2 separate regions of the Homo sapiens genome follow, and region 2 is linked to region 1. A link means that fine-mapping ties the variant in region 1 to the expression of a gene that starts in the linked region. Tissue or cell type: whole blood. Region 1 holds a variant in brackets; the other region holds the start of a gene. All regions are shown on one strand. Distances are from middle to middle.

The links. PIP is the estimated chance that this variant, and not a neighbour inherited with it, causes the effect.
Region 2: it holds the start of MLST8, and the variant in region 1 is fine-mapped to the expression of MLST8 in whole blood (INTERVAL, PIP above 0.99).

What each region holds. Positions count from the first base shown.
Region 1 is chr16:2,162,552-2,165,303 of GRCh38, forward strand. It overlaps TRAF7 (TNF receptor associated factor 7), which reads left to right. Exons shown (of 21, transcript NM_032271.3): 2 at 1,332-1,450. The coding sequence starts at 1,370. Among named protein-coding and RNA genes, the nearest start is that of TRAF7, 8.1 kb to the left of the region's middle. RefSeq lists enhancers at 419-920, 921-1,420, 1,830-2,603, 2,604-2,752. The variant G/GT (reference allele first, on the strand shown) is at 1,208.
Region 2 is chr16:2,204,215-2,206,817 of GRCh38, forward strand. MLST8 (MTOR associated protein MLST8) reads left to right here and starts at 1,240. Exons shown (of 9, transcript NM_022372.6): 1 at 1,240-1,298; 2 at 1,817-2,000; 3 at 2,144-2,195; 4 at 2,283-2,445. The coding sequence starts at 1,872. RefSeq lists enhancers at 215-1,055, 1,895-2,603 and a silencer at 1,148-1,797.

The DNA.
Region 1 (2,752 bases):
ACTGGGACTGTCCTGCTCCTCTCAGGCCCCTGGGGCCTTGGTTTGCAGCCCGGCTTCCCCAGGGTGAGAGCAGGGCCGCAGGAGTGGGCTCCCTGCTGCTGCACCGCCCCCAGAGCAAGCTTGTTCTGAGGGCTCCTGCCTTGGGAGCTGAGCCCATGGTGTGTCCTCATGGGGTGCTGCGCATGGGCCTCGAGGTGGACAGTGCAGGTGGGCCCGGGGCAGGAGTCCTGGGCACGTGGCCTTCCTCCCCACAGGGAGCTCAGCTTCAAGCCGGGGCTCGGCTGCGCTATCCGCTGCCAGCAGGAGACAGGGCTGTCCCAGCTGCATTCTGCCAGGCTCCTGGCTTCCAGGCTGCCCAAGTCCTGAAAGTGGGACCTGCTCGGGAGGAGGGGCGCCTGCTGACAGAGCCTGGTGCCTCACGGGGGGAGAGTGGGCGTCATCCAGCATGGACAGCCCCTTCCCCGGGCTCTGTCCTGGGTGTGACCTGTTGGCTGGGTCTCTTTTTCTCTCTAATGTTTACCTTCCCCTACTGGTGTCCCTGGGCCTGGCCAGCACTCCCAGCACCCACGGAGGGGCCACGTCTCCCCCAGGCCCACCAGCCCCTCTCTTCTGGGGAGGGTGATTCCCGCATGCCTTCTCCCTGCCCCCCCACCCACCAGCCCCTGAGCCCCTGTGGCGTGGCTGGGAGTGTGGGTGACCTGCACGGGTTCCAGGGGCGGGCTCATCTCTCTCCTGTGCTTTTTTCCGTGCAGTGCGGTTTGTGTGGAGTTGGGCTCCGGTGACTCACCCTGCAGGTTCTTTCTCTGGGGTGTGGCTGGTGTCTCCCCGCTGCAGCCTGGTGCTGGCTGGGTCCTGACCGCACCTGTCGTGGCAGGAAACACATTCGTCGTGCCTTGGCTGGTCCCTGTGTGACTGCGTCCCGCCACGTGGGCCACACCCTGGGCCTACCCACCAAGGCCCAGCCTTGGCCCCAGGGACATTCAGCCTGGAGGTGACTGGCTGTGACTCAGGACCCAGAGGAGTAGAGGGAGCCAGGCAGGGGTCCCTCCACCTCGGGGAAGAGCTGGATGGGCTCTTCGGGAGCTCAGAAAGGCTAAGCCTTGAGGGACGGTGACGCAGAGCCGCCTGCCTGCCCGGGCCTCTGCATACCTGGGATCGGGGTGAAGGACCTTTGCCTCCTAGAGGCCTGCCTGAGCCGGGGCTGGTG[G/GT]TGGAAGGCTGCTGCGGCGGCCCCACGGTGCCCCACAGCAGGTCTGCACACTTGCAGCAGCCCGTCTGACTCACAGGGGCCTGGGCTCCATCTCTCAAGCCCCTCATTTGTGCTCCACCCACAGGAGGTGCTTCCCAAGGACCGTAGATGCCTCTCTAGAGCATGAGCTCAGGCAAGAGTGCCCGCTACAACCGCTTCTCCGGGGGGCCCAGCAATCTTCCCACCCCAGACGTCACCACAGGGGTAAGGGTGTGCCCCTCTGCAAGCCCAACATCCCCAGGACCCCCAGCATGCCCCAGGGATCTGGTGTTGCCTGCAGAGCTCCCAGCGCAGTCCCGTCCCGAGCTGGGGTCTCAGGGGAGCTCGGTGGGGGGGGGTGTGGTGTGTGTGTGTGTGTGTGTGCGCGCGCGCGCGCGCGCGCGCACGCGTGCGTGTGTGGTTGGGGCGTGTTAGTGCTGTGTGGCGCGGCCTGGTTGCATGGTTAAGCGTGTGAGTGCTGCGTGGCGCGGCCTGGTCGCATGGTTAAGCGTGTGAGTGCTGCGTGACCTGGCCTGGTCGCATGGTAAAGCGTGTTAGTGCTGCGTGGCGCGGCCTGGTTGCATGGTTAAGCGTGTTAGTGCTGCGTGGTGCGGCCTGGTCGCATGGTTAAGCGTGTGAGTGCTGCGTGGCCTGGCCTGGTCGCATGGTTAAGCGTGTTAGTGCTGCGTGGCCTGGCCTGGTCGCATGGTTAAGCGTGTGAGTGCTACGTGGCCTGGCCTGGTCGCATGGTTAAGCGTGTGAGTGCTGCGTGGCCTGGCCTGGTCGCATGGTTAAGCATGTTAGTGCTACGTGGCGCGGCCTGGTCGCATGGTTAAGCGTGTTAGTGCTGCGTGGCGCGGCCTGGTCGCATGGTTAAGCGTGTGAGTGCTGTGTGGCGCGGCCTGGTTGCATGGTTAAGCGTGTGAGTGCTGCGTGGCGCGGCCTGGTCGCATGGTTAAGCGTGTGAGTGCTGCGTGGCCTGGCCTGGTCGCATGGTTAAGCGTGTTAGTGCTGCGTGGCCTGGCCTGGTCGCATGGTTAAGCGTGTGAGTGCTGTGTGGCGCAGCCTGGTCGCATGGTTAAGCGTGTGAGTGCTGCGTGGCCTGGCCTGGTCGCATGGTTAAGCGTGTTAGTGCTGCGTGGCCTGGCCTGGTCGCATGGTTAAGCGTGTGAGTGCTGTGTGGCGCAGCCTGGTCGCATGGTTAAGCGTGTGAGTGCTGCGTGGCCTGGCCTGGTCGCATGGTTAAGCGTGTGAGTGCTGCATGGCCTGGCCTGGTCGCATGCTGAAGCGTGTGAGTGCTGCATGGCCTGGCCTGGTCGCATGGTTAAGCGTGTGAGTGCTGCGTGGCCTGGCCTGGTCGCATGCTGAAGCGTGTGAGTGCTGCGTGGCCTGGCCTGGTCGCATGGTTAAGCGTGTGAGTGCTGCATGGCCTGGCCTGGTCGCATGGTTAAGCGTGTTAGTGCTACGTGGCGCGGCCTGGTCGCATGGTTAAGCGTGTTAGTGCTGCGTGGCGCGGCCTGGTCGCAT
Region 2 (2,603 bases), 42 kb after region 1:
GTGGGAAGAGGCCGGGCGCAGTGGCTCACGCCTGTAATCCCAGCACTTTGGGAGGCTGAGGTAGGCGGATCACTTGAGGTCAGGAGTTTGAGACCAGCCTTGCGAACATGGTGAAATCCCGTCTCCACTAAAAATACAAAAATCAGCCAGGTGTGGTGGTGCGTGCCTGTAATCCCAGCTACTCGGGAGGCTGAGGCAGGAAAATCGCTTGAACCTGGGAGGCAGAGGTTTTGCAGTGAGTCGAGATTGCACCACTGCACTCCAGCCTGGGCGAGAAAGCGAGACTCTGTCTCGAGAGAAAAAAAAAAAAAAGGTGGGAAGAAGGAAAAGTATCCACTGGATTTAGCAAAGTGAGATTGTCAGTGACCTTGAGGAATTTCCACTGGAGAGCTAGAGAGCTGGGGGTAAAAGGCAGATGACTGGGGTTGCGGAATGAGTGGGAGGTGAGGACGTGGAACTAGAAAAATGGTGAGGACCGCTCTTTGAAGAAGATAATTTGGGATTGTTTTATGGTGTTTTTTTAAAGGCTAACCGGCAGGAAGGAGAGGAGGTGAAGGTATAGGAAGGAAGGCTCCATGGGAACTATGGCCTGGTCAAGGGACAAGATGCACCCCCTCTGCGGCCAGAGGAAGGGGTGCAGCCAGGTCTGTAAGAGCAGCAGGAAAAAACCATGCGACAGCCTGTCTCAAGGGTGAGGGCACCGGCGTGGAGCTCACAGAGCTGGAATGAGGGCCTGTGGTTTTGAGGGGGACCCTGGGCTCAGTGGGATGTCCTGAGGGTCAGGCTGGGGCTGGGGTGCCAGATCTAGCAAGTAAAACTACAGGATACCCAATAAAATTTTTTTAGCATAAGTATTTCCCATGCAATGTCCTGGATATACTTACACTAAAAAAAAAATTATTCGTTACTTGTCTGAATTCAAGTCCTGTAATTTTCAGCCAATCCTAGCCCAGCGTGGCGCAGTAGTGGGTCAGGGAGGGCACCGGAACAGCGCGACCCGACAGCCCGGGAAACGGACAGCCGTGTCAGAAGGGCAGGTGCCAGTGGGCAGGAGGCCGGAGAGAAAGCCGCAGCTTCCTTCCACCTCGCGCCGGGCCCGCGGCCGCGCACGGGGACCGCTCCGAGTTCCTCCCGGCGGGAACCCCCCGCCCCAGAACTTTGGTCTCGTCCCACCCACCCCCGCCCGCGCCATGGTCTCGCCCTAGGGAGCCATCGATAACTCTACGCTCGGCCTCGATCGACTCGCTCCGGCTCCCCTCGCCGTCCTGGACACGGCGGAGTGCGGAGCCGCCCGTAAGGTACGGAGGCCGCGAGCCAGGGGCCGGGAACCGGCTGCTGGGTGGCTGGGAGAGCACGGCCAGGGGAAGCCGGCCAGCAGGACGGAGCAAGGGCGGTCACCGGAGGAAAGGGGAGCTCGGGGGTCCAGCCAGACTGCGCCCTTTCCCATCAGGGCCTGCCGCTGGCCTGCTACGCATGCGCAGCCGCAGCGCTCGGCTTTCCCCGGCCCATCCGCCGCCTTGCGCACGCGCAGCCCGCCCCTGCGGCAGAGTGGCGCCCGCGCGTGACTCCCCCCTGCCGGCTGCGGAGGTGGGGGGGGGACGGCGCCCCCGCCGTGTGCGTGGGGCGGGGATGGAGCACGCGCCCTGGAGCCCCGGAGCCAGGTATCACGCGTGTGACGCGTGTCCCTGAACCTACCTGCGCTTCTTGTCCCAACTCTAAAATGGGAATGATAAGCGCCATTCGGCAGCGCCTTGTGGGTCTATAATCTACTTAGCACAGAGAGTGTCTTCTAAGTACTTCACATCCTTCTCTGCAGATGCTCTGACCTTTGACCCCTGCCGTTCAGCTCTAGGGCCCGTGCAGGCCACACCATGAACACCTCCCCAGGCACGGTGGGCAGTGACCCGGTCATCCTGGCCACTGCAGGCTACGACCACACCGTGCGCTTCTGGCAGGCCCACAGCGGCATCTGCACCCGGACGGTGCAGCACCAGGACTCCGTATCCTCCACCCGGGGCGGGCAGGGCGGCGCTGGGGGGATGCCTCGTGTGGGGACCACAGCCTGTGTGAAGGCCAGATGGTGGAGGCCTGGGGGGCCCTGGCCTCAGGGCTACCTTCCCGTCATCCTCCTTAACAGTCCCAGCAGGTGAATGCCTTGGAGGTCACACCGGACCGCAGCATGATTGCTGCTGCAGGTATCTGTGATCCTTGATCTCTAAACTCCTGAGCTCTGGTGGGTCGACCTCAGCACAGCCAAGCTTCAGTTCAGCCTGTGTCCCTAGGTTACCAGCACATCCGCATGTATGATCTCAACTCCAATAACCCTAACCCCATCATCAGCTACGACGGCGTCAACAAGAACATCGCGTCTGTGGGCTTCCACGAAGACGGCCGCTGGATGTACACGGGCGGCGAGGACTGCACAGCCAGGATCTGGGACCTCAGGTGCGGTGGGGAGGGGGCGTGCTGCCCGGGGCTGGGGTGGGCTGCTCTGGGAGACCGTTTTAGGTTGGGTTCTCTTCAAGCAGAGGCTGAGACAGGGAGCTTCCTGTGGGCGACTTACTGAGAGAAGTGAGGACAGGAGGAGAGTGAATTGCATCAGA